Linked DNA regions of Homo sapiens. The protein of the gene in region 5 purifies or fractionates together with the protein of the main gene of each other region. This does not show direct contact. Each region holds a gene or a part of one and is shown on either strand. Other genes may lie near its edges. The genes, in order: CACNA2D2, SEL1L3, TXNDC15, LRP12, DIPK1A, ANKRD44 and SUSD1.

Region 1 (3,500 bases), on a different chromosome or scaffold from region 5:
CAGGGGTGCTGCTGGAAACTGTACCTGCTTCCCTTGGCTAAGGGCGTGGAGACGGGCTGGGTCTCCACCCTTCCTAAAACCTGTCTGGGCTCCAGGCAGCCATGGGGGATGCTAGGGCTCCAGAGAGGGCATAGGGCTGCTGTTGAGGCATCCCCAGTTGGGCCTGTGCCCTGGGCTTATGAGCTGTGCATGTGTGGGTGAGTGAGCATGCATGTGTGTGTGTGTGTGTGTGTGTGCCTAAGTGTGAGTATCTCTGTATGGGTTTGAGAGTGAACCTGAGGATGTGGCCGCTGGGGCTCCTCTGTGGCCTCTCCCTGCCCAGCTGGACTGGCCACCTTGCTGGTCTGCACCTGGGAGGGGTCCCTCTGCTCTTGGCCTGTCTCACTGTGGGTGGTCCACCTTCTTAGCCTGTCTCCACTTCTGAGCTCTCTTTTGCTCCCAGGGCTTTAATTGTATAGAAGACAGATTGTCCCTGATACCAAATACTCCCACAATGCACTGCAAGATTCTGGGGAAGGGGGCACTTGGGGTGCTTGGAGGGGCTGGGCAGTCACTGGTTGGACTGTTCCTTTCTGATAGGACTGTGAGGCAGGGTTTGGACACAAGCCGATGGGGAAGGGGTTGGGGGGAAGAGGAGAAGGAGGAAAAAGAAAAAGGAGGGCGAAGGAGCAGGGAAGGAGACTATGCTATGTTGTCATTGTTACTAGGGCCCTGCATTTCTGGGGTCACTGGGTGGGATGTGCGGGGGTGGGGAGAAAAAGACAACTCAAGCCAGTGGGAGTAGGGCACATCCCCCACCCCCGCCCTGGCCACTGGAGGTGGCTCTGATCCCTTTATCCCCTTTGCTGGACTAGGCTGGACAGGGCCCCTAGGGCTTCTTGGGTGCCCCTGCTTCCAGGTCATGGGGACATCCTCTTGTGGCTCTCCATGCCCCATCTGCCCAGGGATTCCCTGGGAGAGGTGGCTCTCTGAGACCTTTGTAATGCTGTCCTCTCTCACTCCCCTTACTCTCTGCCAGGGTCTAGGGGTTCACTACCCACTCTTCCAGAAGTCTCCTTGGCTTAGGCACCCCAGTGTGCCAGAACCCTTCCTTTCATACCCAGCCTGATTTCCTCCAAACACCTTTGCTGGCTCTTGGGGTCTAAACAGATCCCATTCCATCCCTGTCCAGGCCCCTGGTCCCCAAATCTGGTTTTATTTCCCCAGGGAAACACCTTTTCCATACTGCCAAGCCACCCCGGGGCTCAGCAAAGCCTCTGGAAGCAGCGGGCCGGCAGGACACGGGGACATCAGCACCTGTGTCAGTGCCCAGGAGGCGCGGGTCAGCCCTGCTCTTCAATGGCTGGGGCCTGCCCTATGCTGCCCTTTGGCCCCAGCATCAGGGCGTGAGGCTTCTGAGCCTTCTGCCTCCCTTCTTGGAGGGCTGCCAGCTTCTGAAGCTACTGCCAGAGATCAGAGGAGGGAGAGCTACCTCAGAGTAGGCCTTGTGGGCTGGCCCCTTCCCACAGCTTCACATGAGCCCCACTAGGGGCTGATCTACCCCCTGCATCTCAGGCCTCCAGCCCTGCTGAGTGGGAGGTGGTGGAGAAGCGTCCAGACTGTCCCTACTGTTGAGTTGTCTTAGAGGGACAGAGAAGGTGGGGGAGGCAGGGGCCTCCCCAGAGAGAGTGAGGGGTCCAAGGAAAGGGTTGTGGGCCCTGAGAACACGCCGGAGAACACCCTGCAGGCAGGGCCAGGGGCACAGGCCACTGGCTCTCATAGGGGCTTAGGAATCAGAGGAAAGGCAAGAACTAGAGGAGCCAAGGGGAAGCTGGGAGGGGGCCCTGGAGAGCAGGGGTTTGGCTGGTCCTGGGCAGGGAGGGGGGCAAGCAGGGGCGTGAGGATGGGAGGGGTGGGAAGAGGAGGGTGCACTGGTTCTGAATATACTTGCCCTTCAGTTTGCTGATTGGCACTGGGACAGTCCACCAAGAGAGAAAGCGAGGAAAACAAAAACAACACAAACACAAAAACAAACGAAAAGGGGGAGGGAAAGGGGAGGGGCACAAACAATATTTTATTCAATGGCTGTTTGAATGAAAATATTGTGTCTCATCATCATACCGAAAGGAAACTTCTTGCAAAAAACGACATGAGAGAGAAAGAGAGAGCAAGAAAACTCAAAGGAGATGAGCCCCCAGTCGGCCAGGCAGGTGGGGGGCGCCCGGTGGGGCCGGAGCCCCAGCCTCCCTCCCAGTGACCTCGGGCGTGGTGGGCAGGCAGGGCCACAGGCTCTAGAGACTCTCTCAGGAGAGGCCCAGGATGAGCAGGGCATGCAGGGGTGAGCCACAGGCAGAGGAGTGGGAGAGGCAGGGGAGGAAGGAGGGGGGCCAGGGAGAAAGCAGGGAGGGGGAGGGAGGAGGGGGATGGGGAATGAAGGAGGGAAGAAAGAAGGTGAGGAGGGAGCCAGGGGGCAGAGCGGAGGGAGTGTGGGGAGTGGGACTGAAGGGGGGGGGGTGCTGGGGTGGGGAGAGCGGGAGGGAGGGAGAGTGAGAGAGAGAGATGGAGGAGGTGAGCAGGAGAAAGAGGGAGATAGAGGAGATGCAGGGAGAAGAGGAGGGAGAGAGGGAAGAAGAGAGGACAGTGCGTAAGGGAGGGAGGTTGGATGCAGAGGGGAGAGAGGTAGGAAGTGAGAGGAGAAGGATGAGAGGGTAAGTGGGAACTGAGTGAGGATGGATGAGGAAAGAATGGAGAGGAGGGGGCAGAGAGAGAGAGAGGCACCATGGGAAGGGGGCACCACAGGGGTAGAGAGCTGAACAGGAAGAGAGAGGAAAGAGGGGAGGGGAGGGAGAAAGAGGGGAGGGGAAGGGAAAAGGGGGGAGGGGAGGGGGGAGGAGGGGAGGGGAAGGACTGGAGGGAGAGGAGGGGAGGGGAAAGAGGGGGAGGAGAAGGGGAGGAAGGGAGAGGGAGGAGGGGAGGGGGAGGAGGAGAGGGGAGGTGGGATTGGGGAGGAGGTAAGGGGAAGGAGGAAGGAATTGAAGGGAGGGGGAATAGGTGAAGGGAAGGGAGAGGAGGTGGAGGGAGGAAAGGGGAGGGGGGAAGGTGAGGGGAGGGGGGATGGTGAGGGTGGGGGGAAGGGGAGGGGGAAGGAAAAGGGGAAAGGGAAGGGGAGGGGAAAGGGGAGAGGAGAGGGACAGGAGGAGGGGGAGGAGAAAGGGGAGGGTAGGGGGAGGAGGAGGGGGAAGGGGAGGGGAGGGGAAGGGGAGTGGAGGTGGGTGGGGAGGGGAGGGGGAAGGTAAGGGGAGGGGGTGTCTTCCAAGAATGCAGCCCCCAGGAGTGTGTGGGGCAGGCAGGCTAAGGAGGGAAGACACGGAGTAGGAGAAACCAAAAACAGCAACCTCAACAGAAACCATGAAAGAATGGTCTGGAACCGAATCTGAGAAAAGGCAAGCATGCAGATTTCCACAGACTTTCGAGGTGCCCCAGCCTGCGGGCACCTGAGGGTGGGCAGACTGGGCAGGAGG
Region 2 (3,500 bases), on a different chromosome or scaffold from region 5:
ACCAGCCTGATAGCAGAACACACATCACCCTGGGCCTACACTGTTCCCCTAGGTCCATTGGCTTTGCAGCTTCTGGGTCACCTGGGAACTCCGTCATCTTTGCCAAAGCCAAGCGTCATTAGCCCTTCTTCTCCCAAGTCTTCATTTCTGATTGCTGATGGGGCACCCAAGGGTACTGTGGGTACAACCCAAGGACTCCAAAAAGCTCCTTTCCTCACCTGTTGCATCTCAAAAGCACTCTCCTTGTCCACTCTTTGGGAGGGTACACCAAGCATAATTGCCTTAATGGATCAGGCTTTTGAAAAACAAAAAATCCCAAAGTATATGTCTGGAGCCATCTCCACTTCTGCCTGGCCACAAACCTCCCCTGAGACCAAAAAATCACAGAGCCTGACCGTCAGCTGCCTGAAGGAAGCTAAAGGCAAGAACAGAAGTGGAAAATAGAAGTCACTATTTCAAAGAAAGAGCCCTGTCTTACTAGTATCATGTCAACTTTATGTCTCAATAGAATACACCATATAGAGCAAGATTTGCAGAACTGCTAGCTCCTCGGTACAACTAGGTAACGTTTTAAACCAACGTCAGCCTATTCAATACATTTATAATTTAAGACAACTCATTCCTTCCAGCTAAGTGGTTAGCCTAATGTTCTTTTAAAAAGAGTATGGTGATATGTATAAGATTAATTAAACCTTTTCCTGCTGTTTCCTGTCATCTACATTTCCAGCTAATGAGGTTTCTACTAAAATTATAGTAAAATGTCACAAAGTAGTGCTTATGAAGAAAGCAGTAGCCTTATAGTCAGAGAGATTTCATGAGGAGGTTGTACTCTGTCCTGTCTCATTAGCTTGACATCTTACCAGTATCTCCACTCCTGAAGAGTGTTTCAGTGACACAAATCTGGTCCCTGCTAGATCCAGAGGCCCAGATGAAGTAGGCATGATCTTACTTATAGCATACAATTTCTAGGGTTTTCCCCTGTATACCTCCTTTGTGCAAACATTCTCTCATTTCACATGTGAATCCAACATAGTCCCACGTATTCTTTCTTTTTTGCTTCCATCTGGTCAGTCGGCAAGCAGATGTTCTTCCTAACAGCAGAGATCAGCAAACTTTTTCTGTAAAGGACCAGATAATAAATATTTTGGGCCCTCGGGGCTGTCTTGGTCACAACTACTCCACTCAGCCGGTAGCTGAAAAGCAGCCATTGTGGCTGGGTTTCTTTTTTCTTTCTTTTTTTTTTTTTTTTTTTTTGAGATGGAGTCTCGCTCTGTCGCCCAGGCTGGTGTGCAGTGACAAGATCTCAGCTCACCACAACCTCCGGCCTCCCAGGTTCAAGCAATTCTCCGGCTTTAGCCTTCCGAGTAGCTGGGATTACAGGCACGTGCCACCACGCCCGGCTAATTTTTGTATTTTTAGTAGAGAGAGGGTTTCACCATGTTGGCCAGCCTGGTCTCAAACTCCTGACCTCAGGTTATCCGGCCGTCCGGGCCTCCCGAAGTGCTGGGATTACAGGCGTGAGCCACGGCGCCCGGCCTGTGGCTGGGTTTCTAATAAATCTTTACTATGGATGCAAAATTTGAATTTCATATATTTTTCACATGTCGCGAAATATTACTCTTTTTCTGTTCAACTGTGTAAAATTGTAAAAACTGTTTTTTAAACCACGAGCCGTACAAAAACAAGCAATGACTACGTTTGGCCCATGGGCTGCAGTTTGGGCCAGTTCGTGATATTTCTCACTAATGTACAGAAAATGGTCCCCCAGGCAGCAAATAATTCACAAATCACTCCTATTTGGCTCTGGAATATACTCTGTAATTTTTTAAACAACATGCTTATTGTCCTGGTTACCTTGATTCTAGTCCAATAATAAAATTAGCACACATTCCAGATGAGCAGAGACAAAGAGGCCACTTTAAAATTAGGCCGGGCTGTGGGGGGCTTGTGCAGTGATTGCAAACCCCCCAGTGGAAGAAGGGGAGTCCTCACACAGATAATGACTAACTTCCTGTAGAAACATCAAACATTTTTACTATGCTCTTACCAAAGATTTAAATGGTGGCAATGCTAATTATGCATTCTTTCTACATTTACACATTGGCACTTTTTTTTTTTAAATCAGAAAACTCATTGCTGATTTATCTTGTTACCATGGTGATTTAAACATTTCCCTGAGCTTGAAAATACATGCCTTAGTACTTCATTAACTTCCTCAGAGATCATCAGGAAGGTAAATCTTAGGATCAAAGTGGGTTTCAAGATCATCTAATCCAAGACTCTCAATTCACAAGTGATGAAACCGAGGCCCGGGAGACTCAAACATTTTACAACCAAAATGTCTGCCATCTGTACCTATCCCAAGGTCCCTTGTTAGCAGCAGATAAATGAGGCTTGTCCAACCCAGTTCTCCTGACTGCTGCAAAATGGTCTTTGTACCTCATCACTGGGGCTCTAATCACTAGATCACCTGCCAGAGTAGTGGCTTTAATGACCTTAGAAAGGGTACATCATTCTACAACATCCTGCCCCTCCCCATCACTCTCCTATTCTTTCAGAAGAGTGTTGGAATCCACGACCTCTTCTGTAGGTACTGGAAGGGGCCCGAAGAATTCCCGCATATATCCAGAAAAGCCAGAAGTTTGGGGACCCATTCTTAAACTTCCTAGAATGTCCCCTTAGGAATGAGCATCGGCACTTGGAGGTGAAACTCTTGAAGGGTTTTTATTTAGAAATCAGATTGTCAGCATGTGGTGGCATCTTCTTAAACTTAGATAACGGGTCCAGAGTTGCCTGGCTAGTTAGTGTCAGGTTCATTAGACTAGATGCATCTCTCCTGGCTTGCCAGAGTCTCTAGGTGTGGTTGTACATTCTGAATGCACTGTTTTGAGTATTCAGCACCTGTTGTGCATGTGTCTCTGCAGCAAGCGATCCCCCTCCAAGACCATCCCAGGCCTCCCCAGACACTGCCACGTCCACTGCAAGTCCAGCTGTGACTCCAGCTGCAGATGCCTCTGACCAAGACCAGCCCACAGTAACTAATAACCCGGAGCCACGTGGGTGAACTGTGCACTCCAGTTCTCTCCAGATGAGAGAGAATCTTTTCAACAGCTGGTATTGGGAAGCTGGGGCCAGGGCATGATCCTGATAAACACCTTAAATGTCTTGTCAACTGGATGCAAATTTTGCAATTGGTGTCATTTTTTTTAAAGTCAAATTACAAGGAAGTACCCAGATCAGGCAGTGGTAATACCAAAGGTCATCAAACACATACAAGGAACATCTTGATCATAGGGCATGTGGGGAAGTTTACTGGGCCATCACAGACTTTTGTTCTAGTGATTGTATGTATTAGGAGTCATAGCATGCCCTACGGCAGATCTGGATTCTTATACACTAAGATGTGTCTTAAGAATCACAGTGCGTGCTTCATCCCTTTATTGAAGAACAGAAAATTATGACTACTCTACAAGGTGGATAATATTTTGGTACCTGTGCTT
Region 3 (3,500 bases), on a different chromosome or scaffold from region 5:
TTTACTCAACTTCATTTTACCACCAATTGACCATTTTTCAGATGTTCTAGATTTATTTACACACAACCTCCTTGTTGAGGCTGACCTACTAAGGAGCATCTGATTTGGAAGAGAAGAACAGTTTATAACTCAGGCACAATCGCAGCACTTAGGAGAAACATATACCATCTCAACAAAGTTCTCTGTAACTTACTTTACTAAACATTTAAAAAAGACAAAAAGTGGCTCACACCTGTAATCCCAGCACTTTGGGAGGCCGAGGCTGGTAGATCACAAGGTCAGGAGTTCGAGACCAGCCTGGCCAACAAACGGTGAAACCCCGTTTAAAAATACAAAATTAGCCGGCATGGTGGCAGGTGCTTGTAATCCCAGCTACTCAGGAGGCTGAGGCAGGAGAATCACTTGAACCTGGGAGGCAGAGGTTGCAGTGAGCCTAGATCACACCATTGCACTCCAGCCTGGGTGACAGAGCAAGATTCCACCTCAAAAAAAAAAAAAAAAGAAAAAAAAAATGACCAGCCTGGCATGGTGGCGCATGCCTGTAGTCCTGCTACTCAGGAGGTTAAGTCAGGACGATCGCTTGAGCCCAGGAGTTCAAGGCCAGCCTGGACAAAAACCCAGTGAATGATACACGAGAAATATAAAACAAAGATAAATGTCATGTTAAAGAGCTAAATTAATTCATGACTTGATCGAGTGCCTACTACAGAACATGACTGCAAGAATAAGTACGCAGGAAAGAAAGAAGGAAAGAGGGAAAGGGAAAAGAAGGAAAGAAAAAGAAAAGGAAGGGAAGAAATCCTGAGTAGACACAAAACAGGGGTGCTGGGAATTGGGCTGCCTGGGATGGGGATTTAACCTGCGCCTTAAAGTCACAAAGGAATATCCTACTGTGATACCAATTGTGCTGATTCAGTCTGGCTATGGCCCTCAAAAGTCTTCTGGCCCCTCCCCTGCCATCAGGTGCTACCACCTGCCACCTTTAAATCCACCACACAGAGAACAGCCCACTTTCTTTAAGGGGCCTCCATAAAGTGACACCACCAGCTCCCTCAGGAGTATGATAATCCTCACTATTCACTCTTGCCTTGCCTTCCATCCCAGGACACAGTTCATGCCCCCCCTCTTCTGCTTCTAACTTAACTAATTAGGACCTCCAAATAACTGCAACCATCAGCCAGGAGGATGGACGTAAACCCCACCAATGGAAGATACCTGCTGTGCTGAGATGCATCCAGTGCCAAAAAGTGAAGAGCTGGAAATGCCCGGGGCAGAGAGTTAAAGTGAGGGGCCAAACTGGCAGAAAAGCGGCACCACGGGGTGTAAAACAGGACTAGAGTACAGTCACTACCGTTTGGGTTCAGAAAATCCATAAGGTCCTGTGGTAAAAGAAACAAGCATTAAAGTTAGCAGTAAAAGTACATTTTTCTGAAAGGATACCCAAGAAACAGGACACACTGCTGCTCCAGGGAGAGGAACGGGTGGGTAGGAGCAGCGAGAGAAGGAACCCTCGGAACCTTTTGGATTTTGAACCATATGAATCCAGGAACCAGCAAAAAAGTATGATCAAATGACAAGTTATAAACTTTCACTTTTTTTAAGTCTTGCTGAATTAAGCAGAAAGTTTTAAACTTTCCTCTGCGCTTTCCTAATATTACAAGTTATTTTAATATTTTTCATAATTCATCATTTCAAATACAGGCATACCTCATTTTACTGCATTTCACTCCATTGCACTTTGCTGACATTGCATTTTTTGCAGATTGAAAGTTTGTGGCAACTCGGCATCCAGCAAGTTTTTCAGCACCATTTTTCCAACAGCATGTGCTCAATTTGTGTCTGTGTCACATTTTGGTAATTCTTGCAATATTTCAAACTCTTCCATTATTATTATATCTGTTATGGTGATCTATGATAAGTATCTTTGATGTTACTATTGTAATTGTTTTGGGGCGCCACCAACTGTACCCATAGAAGACAGTGAACTTTATCAGTAAATGTCTATGTTCTGACTGTTCCACCGACCAGCTATTCCCCATCTCTCTCCCTCTCCTCAGGCCTCTCCCTGAGACACAACAATATTGAAATTAGGTGAATTAATAACCCTACAGTGGCCTCTGTTTAAGTGAAAGGAAGAGTTGTACATCTCTCGTGAAAGGAAGAGTTGTACATCTCTCATTTTAAATCAAAGCCAAAAATGATTGATTAAACTTAGTGAGGAAGCCATGCCGAATGCCAACATAGGAGACAGGCTGAAAGCTAGGCCTCTTACACCAAACAGCCACATTATAAATGCAAAGGAAAAGTTTTTAAAGGAAGTTAATGTGCTACTCCATCCAGTGTGGTGACCTCTGATGCTTAAAAATAAAAATAAGTGCTACTCAATGAATATGCAAATGATAAGAAAGCAAAACAGCATTATTGCTCATATGGAGAAAATCTTAATGCTATAGATAGACGATCAAACCAGTCACAACATTTAAGCCAAAGCCTAAATCCAGAGCAAGGCCCTAACTCTCTTCAATTCTACGAAGGCTGAGAGAGGTGAGGAAACTGCAGAGGAAAAGTCTGAAATTAGCTGGGGTTGGCTCATGAGGTTTAAGAAAGAAGCTGTCTCCAGAACATAAAAGTGCAAGGTGAGGCAGCAAGTGCTGATAGAGAAGCTACAACATAGTAACATCAAAGATCAATGGGGAAAAAAAAAAAGAAGCTGCAACAACTTACCCAGAACATCTAGCTAAGAGAATTGATGAAGGTGGCTATACTCAAAAATCAATTTTCATGTAGATAAGACAGCCTTCTATTGGAATAAGGTGGCTTCTAGGACTTTCATAGCTAGACAAGAGATGTCAATGCCTGGCTTCAAAGGACAGGCGGACTCTTTTTAGAGGCCAGTGTAGCTGCGGTCTTATTTATTTATTTAACAATAAATCTTATTATTTATTTATTTATTTATTTGACAAGGTCTTGCTCTGTCACCCAGGCTGGAGTACAGTGGCGCAATCATGGCTCATGGCAGCCTCAGCCTCTGGGCTCAAGCAATCCTCCTGCCTCAGCCTCCCAAGTAGCTGGTGCCCACCACCATGCCTGGCAAGTTTTTGTATTTTTTGTAGAGATAAGGTTTCACCATGTTCCCCAGGCTGGTCTGGAACTCCTAGGTTTAAGCAATCCACCCACCTTGGCCTCTGAAAGTACTGGGATTACAGGTATGAGCAACCACAGGGCCAATGCTCATTGCTCATTGCCCATTCTGAAGATCCTGGGGCCTTTAAAAATTATGCTAAATTTATTTTGCCTGTGCTCTAGAAAAGGAACAACAAAGCCTGGATGACAGTACATCTGTTTACAGCATGGTTTCCTGAGTATTTTAGGCCCACTGTTGAGACCTACTGCTCAGAAAAAAAGATTCCTTTCAAAATATTATACTCGTTGACAATGCACCTGGTCAACCAAGAGTTCTGGTGGAGATGCACAAGGAGATGAATGTTGTTTTCAGGCCT
Region 4 (3,262 bases), on a different chromosome or scaffold from region 5:
TGGGATAGAAGAGGAATTTACATTTTACTGTTTGAACCAGGATGATGTATTAGTTAATTAAAATAATAAATTAAAACATATGCTAGAAAACCAAAACCCTTGTACTTGATAATATATTAGTACTAGGGCATAAAAGATTATTTGGTAACCCAAATTCTGCCAGTAGAATATATTATAGGGGTCTAAAATGTATGTGAAAACAATTTAAAAAGAGAACTGATTGTGTTACTGCATCTTGTGAGATACGTCAATTAAAAGGCAGTTTAATCAATTAAACTCTCTCATCTTGTGAGATACATCAATTGAAGGGCAATCTCAAGCAAAATAATATTCAAGTCCTTAGAAAATTTTACCCTCGAGTACTGGTAAAAGCTACTACTTTACTATAAAGTAGTTAAGGAATGATCTCCTTCTAATCATTTTTATTCTAGATATATTGCATATTTTATGGCCTGAATTTGTATATGCACCAAAATTCAACAAATAAAGAACAGCTTTGATTTAAAAAGTACCTCAAGGCAATAAAAAAAATCATTTTAATTTTTGATACATATTAAAACATCTTAGTCAGTTCCTCCTGACAGCATTAACACAGACAAATACACAAGACTTCAAACATGCTTTAAAATGACATTCAGCAAAGTACTTAAAATTTAATAAATAGCAAATCACACACAGATACATTTTTCATAATCATTAAACTACTAAAACAGACAGTTAAAGAATAAATAAACCGCAACTGACAGTAAAAAAAATATGTTGGGTTTTGCAATTCACACTACTTAAAAAGGGGGGATGATCTGAATGATTTCTTAATTTTCTTTTGAGAGTGTAGCATGATCCCCCCCAGGAATAAAATATATTGAAAAAATCACTCTTACAACAATGTATTTTTTAAATACAACAAATAAATATGAAACCAGCAAAGCAATTTCAAGTTGTAATAAAAATGTCCCCCGCCCCCAGCCAAAAGCTATGGAAATATATAGTTGCTGTGGTAGCAAATAATAGTATTTAAAGTGATAGTGCTTGTGCACTAAGCTCATCTGAGACCTTGATATAATTTTAGTGCAAATCCCTAGGGTCCAATGCAAGCGCAACCCTGTATTAGGGAAAGACATTACCAGGTGGAACTTATCTTGTACAATTTTTGTACATGTTTTATAAAGTTCAAGATTTAATGCATAGTAGAATATCTTCATCCACTTAATTCTGTTGCTAAATAGAGATGAAAAAAGAAATGACTTGGGATTTTACCATTTGGTTTGTACCATGTTAGAGTATTAAAGTCAACATTAGAAAATCTTTATAAAAGAGTTTTGTTTTTGCCAGTAATTTATCGAACTCTGCCTAAATTTCACATGATTGTATGTTAAACGTAAGAGAAAAATTTTTAGACAGTTTGTTTCCCACTGACAAGTTCATATGATAATGAAATCCAATAATAGACAAATGTCAAACAAATGAAAACGCAGGTGAGTATAAGGGTTTTTTTTTTGTACATTAACAACCTTAACATCTAGTATATTAAGTTACAAGATGTGTTGGCAAAAGCATAAACGTTTCAATTAAAATAAGGTATTATTTTGTAAAAACAAACCATTTAACATAGGATAGATAAAAATGACAATCAAATGAGTTTCAGCAGCCACATTTCTACAGTGAACTACAGTATCAGGATGAAAACAATCAGAAACAAATGAAAGGACATTATTGAACAATATGAATATGTGATGCATTTTTAGCTGCTAAAATAGTAAACTCTAAGTTCATAGAGTTACAAGTTGTCGAATTTAACCATGCAGGCTAACATATAATAATAAGAAATCACCCTGCATTTTTTCTTTTTAAACTAAAACTAGTTTAACTGTAAAGTTACAAAATAATAAATGGATATTGCTCCAACTTGTATACAATCTCCCTTATGTGATTCGTACCTAACAAAGTAACAAAGCCTCATCATCACTCGTTTCGTTTTTCAGTGTTACTTCTAAGCAAGTGTCTGGTATCTGGGCAGTGTGGACAATACCACAGCGCTCACAGGGGCCATCTCGATTACTTGGCCTTACTCCAGGATTTGTTGCATTATATGGTTGTCTAAGCCCTTGTCCTTGATCTGAGGCAAGATCAAGAAGAGGTCTGGAGCAGTCATTCACATCAAAGTCTGAAGATCCATCAGAAATTGGAATTAGCATTTCAACATCATCATCATCTTCTCTTCCACTTACCCCATTATCAAGTTGTCTCAAAGGACTCTGGTTCTGACTTAGGGAACTTGATCGTCCTAATGTAAAACGTACCCAGCGTAGCCCCTGAGTCATACGACTGAGTGCACTTGTAAGCTGGTGACGTGCTGGACTCACACTTGGGGGTTCCACACTTGTCACATCCCTTCCATTATCTGCATGACCACCTCGGGTACTCTGAGTTGAGGAACTTGCACATGCTCCTACTGTCGCTTCTACTGCCGTTGTGGGAGGGACTTTTTGAGGCAAAGGAGCTGCAACCCCACCAGATGCTCCTGCCATATCTCTTCTCTCATTTTCTGTGTCTGTATCATCAGACTCCACGGAAAACAAACTTCTGTGAGTATGATTTCTCTCAGGTTCTCTACTGGTACTCTGACTAGGGACAACCTCATCTCCATCTGCTGAGACCAAAGCCAATGACCCAGAATGACGTGATCTTGCAAAATTAAAAATACGGTTCCAAATGTTGCTTGATCTGCCTGCCATAGGAAGCCTGACTGAAGTAAATCCAAGCTGAGATCGTACCGCTAGCCTCAGATTTTCCAAAACAGAAGCCTACAAAAATAAGAAAAGATCTTAAGATAGTTAACAACAAGGTACTAAGATAAAAAAAAAAAAAAACACCCTTCTATTAAGAATGTGTTGTGGTTAAAAATTCTGTTACTCATTGTTGCTTTTGGGTCTAAGAAGGAAAAATTAAATTCTCTTACCTATGTGGGTTCATCCTACTACAGAATCTAATCTACTAATCTAACTTGAATCATTGTTTGTTTAAACTTTTCTTGATATTCCATTTTATATATGCAACTTAAAAATGATATTTAATGTAAATTATAACAGTTGTTTCAAAATCTCACATCGTAATCCAACATGAAAAGTGTACCAAAGCTAGAAAATAAAATTGATACTTCTGTAACTAGGAACATAGGAGAATCTCTACATAATTGACGAAGTGACCAAAATGAGTTTGTGAAAACGAGGACTTTTATCTTTTTTTTTTTTAAAGAACAAAT
Region 5 (3,500 bases):
TAGTAAAGTCAGTTGTTATCTTTATTTAACCCTCTGTTTCCAAATACATCTGACCAGGGACATATTTTATCCATGGAATATCTATTAATGTGCTCCAAGGTACCTAGTTTGAGAAAGGTGGCCTAGAGAAAGAGAAATAAACATTTCAAATAGTTTCGGTTATTTGTATGTTTTTGAACTTGATTATCTACCTCCTGTTTCCTCCTTCTTCACTGAAGGTTAGAAACTGAGTTTTGTGGGGTTTTATTAGCTTTATTAGACTGTAACTTCTTCTGTCAGTCTTTTCTGATGTAGGGTAGCAGAAGGAGTATGAGCTTCATAGAGAGACAGAATTAGGATCAAATTCTGGTTCCATCATCTTGGGCAAATTCTCCTGTCTCTCTGGGTCATAGTTCTTTATCTGTACACTATTATGCTAAGGATTAATGAACATGTAAAGTACCCAGTACATTGGCCCCAGAGATACCTCCTATCTTAAAATTCCTTAAGGATCTAGAATGGCCAGTTGGAATGAACACAGGATTGCTATCTTTGAACCTTGACTTAGGACTCTTCTTTACTAACTCATTCCCCTCTCTTGCCTAGTTAAAAGACTGTAACACTCCTGTGGAATAACGTGTTTTTGTATCCTAACTGATGAAGCACCTTGTGTTAAACTGGTTTTTATTTTCTTAGAACTTGGGGAAGCTCCAGGTTTCCGTCTTATGTTCCCATAACAGTTGCTATCTTATTTATCTTACCTTACTGTAATTACTCATTTTCTTTCCTGATCCACTGTAAGTTTTATAAGGTCAAAGATATTTTGCTCCCTGTTATATGCATACACCACTGGCCTGGGTAAAGAGTAGCTACTCAACAACTATAGAATCTTTAACAAGTTATAATAATTGGAACCCTCCAAATCATTACTATTCAAATATAATTCTGAGATGGAGTGTTTTAATATTCTTTATATTAGAAAGTACTGGTAGAGGCCAGGTGCGGTGGCTCATGCCTGTAATCCCAGCTCTTTGGGAAGTCAAGGAGGGCGGATCACTTGAGGCTAGGAGTTCAAGACCAGCCTGGGCAACATGGTGAAACCCCGTCTTTACTGAAAATACAAAAATTAGCCAGGCGTGGTAGTGCGAGCCTGTGATTCCAGCTACTTGGGAGGTTGAGGCAGGAGAATTGCTTGAACCTGGGAGGCAGTTGCAGTAGGCTGAGATTGTACCACTGCACTCCAGCCTGGGCAATAAAGCAAGACTTCGTCTCAAAAAAAAAAAAAAAAAGAGAGAAAGTACTGGTGGAAAAAAAGGAGTTAAATTTACTTGAAATTCTCAAATTTTTAAAATATAAGTCTATAGAATTAATGATCACTACTAGAAATCTTAGACTGATACAGTCATTTTTCTGAGATACATCCAATCACTAGGATAGAAACAGAATAATAATCCTTTTAGATAAATTTTGGTATTCAAGAGTAAAAGATGTGTTCTAGAAAGTCTGCCTGTAAATACGCTTTTATAGTCTAAACATTAAAAAACTCATCTGATTGAAATAAACTAAAACTTAAATATATTAAAAATATATATATATATAATAAAAATCCTTCTTTGTATTGAGGATGCCCCCACACTAACTTATTTATGTGTTATATATTTAAATTTCTGAACACTGGAATTTTCAAAGTGGGGAAAACTTTACTAATGGGTCATGTCAAAAAGCTAAGAAGATTAGCACAATTCTAATGTCAAATTAACTTTTATTTTTAAAAACATCATTAGTAAGTATGTAAGCAGTAAATATAGTGTTATGAAGAGGCTTTTTAGTAAACAGGAAATTTAAAATACTTACTATTATTTTCTTACAGTCCTTTCCTCTGCATAATTCTGTATAGGTAGAATACTGCACATATATAATCCAGCTTCCAACAAAAACCACTAACCAGGAAAAGAAAAGATATTTCATCCGCACATATGAGAAGCGAGCCTGTGAGTAAAAAAGAACATAACGATCATTCATTCAGCACCAAATCAGCATTCAATGTCCTAGAACACGACTTCTCACCCTTCTTGGAACAACTCAATATATATTCCAGGCTTTTATATGGCAATTCTAGAACAAAGTGCACTTTCACTGAGTCCAAACAGCACTGGTCTTAGAAAAGGAAGCTCCTTGGTCCTGCCAAGGAAAAAGGGAACAAAATATCCTTTAAGATGTATAACCTTTCAAATACCACCATCATCCAAAGCTACTTTTTAGGCACAAGCACATGTACCATGCTACCCTGGGCACCTTGTGAGATCAGGTAAAGAGAGGTACAATTCCTATTTACTAGAAGCTTACAAAAGACTCTTTCACATAAGAATCTTAAAGGTCTTTAGGAAAATCATGATAAAAATAATTTTGTTTTAAAGAAATAAGAACAGAAAATCTGGCTATTTGTCTAATGTCTCATACTGACAACCAGAACAAGAAATTAAGCTCTACAGTCATTTCTATTTCCCTATTGTATTCACCAGGGCTTTATGTTCCTCTTGTTCAGCGAACCAAATGTTTCACCGAATAGATATTCTGGAAACTGAGGAGACGCTAACAATTGTTAAAGGAGAAATGACTGGAGAAGGGTTAAGATATATTAAAAATAAGTTACTCTTTGCATATCAACTTGCAAAGTGTAAAGCTGCACAATAGGATCCTCTTTGCATTGTTTTGTTTCCAGTGCTCTTGTATCTAATTGCAACTCGGGCTGGTTGATGCCTTTTTTCCATCAATTACATATCAAACAGTTTCATCTTCAAAAGTGACACTTGATCAAGACTATTTGACATTTATTTTTTGAGTCTGTAGCACCCATGGTCTGGTTTTATAAACAGCAGAACTGAGGACTACGAAGAGAATTCGGCAGAATAAATTAAAGATATGTAAACAAACAATGAAAAGCTAGTTTTGCTTTTACAATCACGAGCCAGTTTCTCACACTGGGAACAGTAGGATATTGTGAGCATTGTGAGCATGCAAAGAAGCAGAAAGAGATGAGAGAGACATAAGCACACCTGCAGAAGACAATGAGTGCAAAGGAAAAAGAGACTCAGGAAATACTGAATTCTATTGGCCCTATTTGTGGTTTAGATATCTTTGTGAGGTTAACAGATGGTGAATCCCTGTACCAAAAGGCTTGAGTACAATGAGTTCTCAGTAAAATTGTAGGTCTCTGAGCTTTATTATTAAAATGAAAAAGTGCCTTAATGCAAGATACTTTTGTATTGCTCTAAGTAAAAAGAAAGTTCAGATTAAACTCCAAATTAAATCACATAAAAGACAATGGGGTATATACCATGGGGTTTGTTTGAAAGATATTTAAGATGACTCGTCTCTAATAAGAGGTTTGGTCATCAGACAGAAATCGACATGTACTAATATTGTGAACCTAAATAAGATTAAATGACATAATGCCTATAAAACATAAGCATATTGCTGGGCACGTAGTAAGTATTCAGCAAATGTTAGCTAAATCAATT
Region 6 (3,310 bases), on a different chromosome or scaffold from region 5:
CAGTCTAAAATGGAAGATACACATTTTTTTCCTTCAAAATGCAAGTGAGAACTGAAGTAGCTTTTTTATGGAGTTAAATGTAATCTTTCTGTGTACCAGTCTTTGTTGTATTTTATATTTCTTAGGACACAGATTTCTAGTTGACCACTTAACATTTGTAACTGATGATGTGCTGACCTTTTTTTTTTTTTTTGCCAAACTAGAGAAAATGTCCATATACTTTTGCTGTAAATGTGTTTATATTTATTTGAAATGAAACAAATGGTGAGGAAACATCCATTATTTGTTCTCTATTTTAATTGCTATGTATCTTATTTAGAATAACAAAAAAAAAGTGAAAAAAAAAACACTTGACCCTGGGCTAGCCAAAAGCCCAAGGGCCAAACCTAGCATTTCCACTGCTAAGGTTTCCAGATGACCCTCAGGTTCTTCCGCGTTGGTTAGAGAGGGCTACGCATCTTCTACTGCTCAGCCACAGTCTGTAGCCAGCTTAGAGCTTAGAAGACATTGCAGTCTGGATGCCCTTCTGCGAGATGAAAACTCAGATGTGTAGTGGATCATATACACAAAGGCAGCACAAAGAAATATCTAGAAATTACCCTAAGTACACTGAAAAGCTCACATAGTCTCAGTAACCTGATGAGAAATGATGGCAGTGTGTGGGCACATGTGCCAAAAGGAGAAATAAAAATCACCAGCTCAAGTGCTATTTTCTACTTGAGGAAGAGACAGAAAAGAAATGTGTCGAATTAGAGCAGTACTCTCTGACGTTTTATAATGAGTTCCATTTCCACCCTGGAAATTGCTATTTTATAGTGTATGTGAGATATTTCAAAAATAATGTTCTATCATATCTGGATCAAAGACAGATAACTGTATTATATTTTTCATCTAGCTATAAAACTTTAATCTTACTCTTAATATCCTGGATTTAATTAAAACTCCTGTTGGGTTCTTCACAAATGAGAACTTGTTCAAAGGATTTATTGAACTGGTATTGATTTCACTGAAAATTTTCCACACCACCACCATTGTTTTTTTGAATTCTTGGTGTTGTGCTTCCCACCTTCTGTCCTTTTCGTTTGTTTAGAGAAGATGAATTTTTAAAAAGCAGATAAATTGCTAATGAGCAATAATGACCTTATCTTTACCAAAACACTGAAAATTAAGAGAGGTTCAGTGTTGAAGAAGCACAATATGCTGCGGTGTCTTTTTCTAGAAGTGAATGGAAATCTTGCTCAGTTGGCATTTCAAGCAGGAAATGAAATGCTTGCTTTAATGGCAAAGCAGCGTTAACATTTTTCCTGTCGTGTAGCAGAGAGTACAAGAATCATTTCAGCAAAGCAGTGACTCACCATGAGACGTTATCTCCATGGAGCTGCGTTTTGACTTTTCCCACTCTCTTACTCATAGAAGGAGGACAAAGGAACGAAATGAAATCATGCTCACAATGAACTGTTCATTACATCAACTGATCTCTCTCTCTCTCTCTTCCTCTCTTTCTCTTTCTCCCATACCCCAAGGCAAAATTTTTTTAAAGAAATGACTTTAAAAACTATCATTTCTGTATTTTAATTACATCTCTTAGAAATAAAATTATGTTTGCACCATAGCTTTCTAAGAAAAAAAAATGTGTTTTTAACTGAGTCTTAGTTGCTTAGTGCTTTTATTTGTGTTATTTTTAGACTGTATTTTAACCACAACTACAAGGATCATGTTTCATTGCACTTACTTATTTGCCAGTGTCTGCCTGTCTTTGCTAAATACATTACTATCTCCAAATTGCCTAAAATCTGCTATGATTCTACAGTAAATAGCTCAGGGTATTTCTATTTATCACTACTAAAAGGGCACCATAGTATGTTTTGGTACTTTAGGCAGTAAACACTGCTTGGTTTATCATTTTGTTATTAAATTAGAACAAGAACATCAAATGGATTTGCTGCACTAGTTATTCTTTGTACTGTTGAGCAACTTGGTGTGCTTATATGTTGTGTTGGTTGAAGAACTCATCCGTTTTATTGTCTTGTAATATGAAGTTAGAGTGCCTTTTTATATTTGTATATTCTGAAAATGTTCTGTGGAATGTTTTGTATTTTTTCATTTGAGTGTTATCAGAGCAATATGATACCAGTGAGTTTTCATTTCAACTTTTCTTTGAATGTATAAAGTGTCTTTTTTCCTATTTCCCCTTGTACTTGCATTGAAATGAATATGAAAATGCTTAAGTTTTCTATAGGAATTGTTTGATTTTGCAGTGCTAAAATGCTTTCGTCTTACGAAACTATAAACCATAGGTCAGTATTATAGGGGAAAAGCATTTTAAGATAGTGACAATCTGAGTGTTTGTATAAAATGTAATTCTATGCGTTTCTTATGTGATCTAAAAATTCAATGCAAATATCTTTTATTTGGTAGTTTTGTCTACATATTTTATGCTCTAGCATGTGCAATATATCTTTGTAAAGCACGATGATACAAATCTGGTGCCAGTGTTATATTTTGCATAACATATTTGTAACAGCATAAAATATTGTTTGATGATTTCAGTGGGATTTTGTCTATAATGTTTTCTTATGTAAATTGGAGTTGAATGACTCTGGTAAATGTCATGACTGTAAAAATGGGGAAAATGACTTTTAGTTCAGTGAATGACTTTGAAACAATCTGAATCTTCTCAAGCACAGTTTAATACTTTTGCAACTACTGAATGCTCTAATAACGTAATGAAGTACTTAACTGTAATATACTATGGAAATGCATTCAGATGGTTATTTTTACAAATAAAAACGGTACAAATATTGTTGGAATTTGTGTTTTAATTTTTCCAATTTATGCTTTTTCTAAATTATGCTAATTTAAATCTTTGCACCCCCTCAAGCCAAATTAACTTTAAATTTAGAAAATAATCAAGATAAAAGTGTATCTCCAGATTCACGATTTATGTTTGTGTTATCACAATTAGAGAAAAAATTCAAACATATATGCTTGTGTTTATTATATGTATTTATGCTTCCAACTTTTTTCCATAAAGGGTTTTGTTTTGTTTTGTTTTGTTTTGTTTTTTTCTGCTCTGTTGTCCAGGCTGATGGGCAGTTGTGAGATCTCGGCTCACTGCAGCCTCGACCTCCTGGGCTGAAGTAATCTTCCTACCTCAGCCTCCCGAGTAGCTGGGACTACAGATGTGCACCACTATGCCTAGCTAATTTTGTTTTTTTGTAGAGATGGGGTCTCACTATATTGCCCAGGCTGGCCCATAAAGGATTTGAGCTGGGTTATGACAAAAGACGTGATAAACTAGAAATAGAAA
Region 7 (3,500 bases), on a different chromosome or scaffold from region 5:
ACAGAGTGTACTTACACAAACCTAGATAGTAGAGCCTGCTACTCACTTAGGCTGTATGGTATACCTATTGCTCCTAGGCTACAAATTCACACAGCATGTTACTATACTGATTACTGTAGGCAACTATAACACAATAAGAAGTACTTATATATCTAAATATAGAAATGATACAGTAAAAATACAGAATAAAAGATAAAAAAATGATACACCTGTAATAGGGCACTTACCATGAATGGAGCTTGCAGGACTGGAAGTTGGTCTGGGTGAGTCAGTGAGTGAATAGTGAGTGAATGTGAAGGCCTAGGACATTACTGTACACTTTTATGTATAGTAATGTACATACAGTAATATACATACAGTAATGTACTTGCTGGCAGAGCAGTAAGTTTGTTTACACCAGCAATGCCACAAACACGTGAGTGTGATGCACTACAACATTATGATGGCTACGATGTCACTAGGCAATAGGAATTTTTCAGTCTCATTATGATCTTATGGGACCACTACAATGTGGTCCATCATCATATATAAAGTGCTTAAAATAATACTTGGCACACAGTGCCATATGAGTAGACATGATTAGATATGCCAAATATCAGCCAGGCGCAGTGGCTCACACCTGTAATCCCAGCACTGTGGGAGGCCAACACGGGCAGATAACTTAAGGTCAGGAGTTCAAGACTAGCCTGGCCAACACGGTGAAACCCCATCTTTACTAAAAACACAAAAATTAGCCGGGTGTAGTGGTGGGTGCCTGTAATCCCAGCTACTCGAGTGGATGAGTCATGAGAATCGCTTGAACCCAGGAGGCAGAGGTTGCAGTGAGCCAAGGTTGTGCCACTACACTGCAGACTGGGTGACAAAGCGAGATTCTGTCTCAAAAACTATATATATATATAAAAAATATATAATATATTACATGTAATGTATTATATATAATATATATTACATGTAATATATAATATATAATACATTACATGTAATATATTACATATATTGTATATATTGTATATTATATATAATATATGTTATTCCCACATGACGTTTTTATATATATATGTATATATATACATATATGTGTGTGTATATATATGTATATATATATGTTCATTCCCACATGACTTCTGGGAATATATATATATATATACACCTAACATCAAAAAACTAACATCAGGAATGAAGAAACACCCAAACCATTTCCCTAATAGTCAGGAATAAAAAAATAATATTCAAAGGCAACACTACCATTTAAGTCTTTGTTCTAAAAATACAAAGTGATCAATCAAGAGAAAAACATAACTATTATAAAGAAAGAAAAATTTATGAATGGAATTATGATTTGCAGATGATATGATACTATTCCTGAAAAATCAAGAAAATCACCTGAAAATCTATGAGAAACAAATAGGAATTTTAAAGGTTTACTTAACTCATTTATTCCCTGAAACTGAAATTTAGAGAAAAATATGAAAACAGTTTCAAGGTGGTATGAATTGGGAACCTGTATTTTTTGAAAACTCACCTTGGCAATGTAATTTTGGGGACTCCCATGTGCCCAGGCCTGTGCAGCTTGAAACTGTATCTTCTGGAACACTGAAGAATCCTTCTCTGCAAGCATAACGAACCTGGCTGCCCAGACTAGACGTATAATTTCCTATGATATAGCCATCTGGAACCTCAGGAGGGGTACCACAGTCTATTTCTGAAAATAAATTAATGTCAAATTCATTACCTCGTGAATGTAAATCTTCAAAATTCACAATCTCTCTCCACCTCTACCCTATTCCTCACACACACACACCCCCGAGCCATATTTTAAGTACACTGGTTCATTCCCACATGACTTCTGGGAACATTTCCAACAATTGTCTTTATTCAATCTTTTGGCCTTCCATAGGTAAAGCATCTATACATGCACAAAGCTGAAATAACTTAGCAATCAACCCTCACTAATTTACACTAACTAAAGAGAAGCCTTGTCCAGTGAAATAAAAAATCTGAATTGCAAAATACCTTAAGATATATGTACCTTGATTATTTTCAGGGTCACTTTTGAGATGCAGGGACCTTACCAAATCATTGGCATTTACTATCTAACATAGTAGTTAATATCGGAATATCTATTAACTGCTAATAAAAATCCTTTAAGTTTATGAATTTTAGCTTTTTTTTTTTTTTTTTTTTTTTTTTTTTTTTTTTTTTTTAAGACAGAGATCTCACTCTGTTGTCCAGGCTGGAGTGCAATGGCATGATCTCGGCTCATTGCAACCTCTGTCTCCTGGGTTCAAGAAATTCTCATGCCTCAGCCTCCTGAGTAGCTGGGATTACAGGTGCCCACCACCACACCTGGCTATTTTTTTTTATTTTTAGTAGAGATAGGGTTTCACCGTGTTGGCCAGGCTGGTCTCGAACTCCTGACCTCAAGTGATCCACCAGCCTCGGCCTCCCAAAGTGCTGAGATTACAGAGCTACTGCTCCTGGCCTAATTTTAGCTTTTTTAACATGGCCCCCTGTAACTTGATTGTTGTTATTTGCTTTATGTCATAGGTTGTACAAAATGTGCAAAGGATCAGATCACCTCCACCTGCCTCCCCAACACAGGCTTGGAGCAGAAGAAAGTCACCATCAACAGAATTTCACGTTGAGATGCCGCAATTTTTGGCAGAAACCCACCTGTGCATGATGTGGCATCGGTGGTCGGGTGGAAAGGTTCAGGTCCATTCCTTGGCAAGTATCCATCCATACAGTAGCATTCAAAGCTCCCATGAGTGTTCACGCATCGCCCTCCATGCCTGCACAGGCCAGAAACTTCACACTCATCTATGTCTTGGGACCCAATCCAAATAGAGAAAAGGAGATAAAAACAGAAAAAAGAAAAAAAAAAGGAGAGGATATTGTGACAGCCATTTTTTCACATTTTCAAGCTACTCTTGTAAAAAGATGCATTTGTTTGCAATTGTATCATACATTTTATTTTATGCCTTATGGGTTCTTCTCATATATCGTTCATATCATAGGCACTGAAAACATAGCAAGTGCTCAATAAATGTTTGTCAGTGTGTTCTGGGATTTTACAAAAGCTGATAACCATCACCGGCTCCCTGACACCCAACAAAATGAACCAAAAACATAAATATATCCAATCACTAAAAAATATCCTGACCGGGCATGGTGGCTCACACCTGTAATCCCAGCACTTTGGGAAGCCGAAGCATGTGGATCACTTGAGGTCAGGAGTTCGAGACCAGCCTGGCCAACATAGTGAAACCTCATCTCTAGTAAAAATACAAAAATTAGCCAGCCATGGTGGTACATGCCTGTAGTCCCAGCTATTCAGGAGGCTGAGGCAGGAGAATCACTTGAACCTAGGAGGCGGAGCTTGCAGTGAGCCGAGATCACGCCACTGCACTCAGCCTGGGTGACAGAGCAAGACCCCGTCTCAAAGAAAAAAAAAAAGAAAATCCAATCACTAAAAAATCCAATCACTATAAATATATCCA

Evidence for each region.
Region 1: the proteins of DIPK1A (region 5) and CACNA2D2 purify together in Homo sapiens (affinity purification with mass spectrometry; one large-scale study listed by BioGRID and IntAct). This does not show direct contact.
Region 2: the proteins of DIPK1A (region 5) and SEL1L3 purify together in Homo sapiens (co-immunoprecipitation; 2 studies listed by BioGRID and IntAct, with this or other methods). This does not show direct contact.
Region 3: the proteins of DIPK1A (region 5) and TXNDC15 purify together in Homo sapiens (affinity purification with mass spectrometry; one large-scale study listed by BioGRID and IntAct). This does not show direct contact.
Region 4: the proteins of DIPK1A (region 5) and LRP12 purify together in Homo sapiens (affinity purification with mass spectrometry; one large-scale study listed by BioGRID and IntAct). This does not show direct contact.
Region 6: the proteins of DIPK1A (region 5) and ANKRD44 purify together in Homo sapiens (affinity purification with mass spectrometry; one large-scale study listed by BioGRID and IntAct). This does not show direct contact.
Region 7: the proteins of DIPK1A (region 5) and SUSD1 purify together in Homo sapiens (affinity purification with mass spectrometry; one large-scale study listed by BioGRID and IntAct). This does not show direct contact.

The regions. Positions count from the first base shown.
Region 1 is NC_000003.12:50,371,135-50,374,634, forward strand, and holds part of CACNA2D2 (voltage-dependent calcium channel subunit alpha-2/delta-2 isoform b precursor), read right to left. Parts: intron 1,952-3,500; coding exon of another isoform or gene 1,931-1,951; intron 1-1,930. UniProt on the Homo sapiens protein: The alpha-2/delta subunit of voltage-dependent calcium channels regulates calcium current density and activation/inactivation kinetics of the calcium channel.
Region 2 is NC_000004.12:25,747,989-25,751,488, reverse strand, and holds part of SEL1L3 (protein sel-1 homolog 3), read left to right. Parts: intron 1-2,924; coding exon 2,925-3,064; 3' UTR 3,065-3,500.
Region 3 is NC_000005.10:134,891,371-134,894,870, reverse strand, and holds part of TXNDC15 (thioredoxin domain-containing protein 15 isoform 1 precursor), read right to left. Parts: intron 1,380-3,500; coding exon 1,216-1,379; intron 1-1,215. UniProt on the Homo sapiens protein: Acts as a positive regulator of ciliary hedgehog signaling. Involved in ciliogenesis.
Region 4 is NC_000008.11:104,488,736-104,491,997, forward strand, and holds the end of LRP12 (low-density lipoprotein receptor-related protein 12 isoform a precursor), read right to left. Parts: intron 2,805-3,262; coding exon 1,938-2,804; 3' UTR 501-1,937; downstream 1-500. UniProt on the Homo sapiens protein: Probable receptor, which may be involved in the internalization of lipophilic molecules and/or signal transduction. May act as a tumor suppressor.
Region 5 is NC_000001.11:92,874,463-92,877,962, forward strand, and holds part of DIPK1A (divergent protein kinase domain 1A), read right to left. Parts: intron 2,689-3,500; exon of another isoform or gene 2,499-2,688; intron 1,969-2,498; coding exon 1,834-1,968; intron 1-1,833.
Region 6 is NC_000002.12:196,986,162-196,989,471, reverse strand, and holds the end of ANKRD44 (serine/threonine-protein phosphatase 6 regulatory ankyrin repeat subunit B), read left to right. Parts: 3' UTR 1-2,810; downstream 2,811-3,310. UniProt on the Homo sapiens protein: Putative regulatory subunit of protein phosphatase 6 (PP6) that may be involved in the recognition of phosphoprotein substrates.
Region 7 is NC_000009.12:112,140,798-112,144,297, forward strand, and holds part of SUSD1 (sushi domain-containing protein 1 isoform 2 precursor), read right to left. Parts: intron 2,827-3,500; coding exon 2,674-2,826; intron 1,703-2,673; coding exon 1,523-1,702; intron 1-1,522.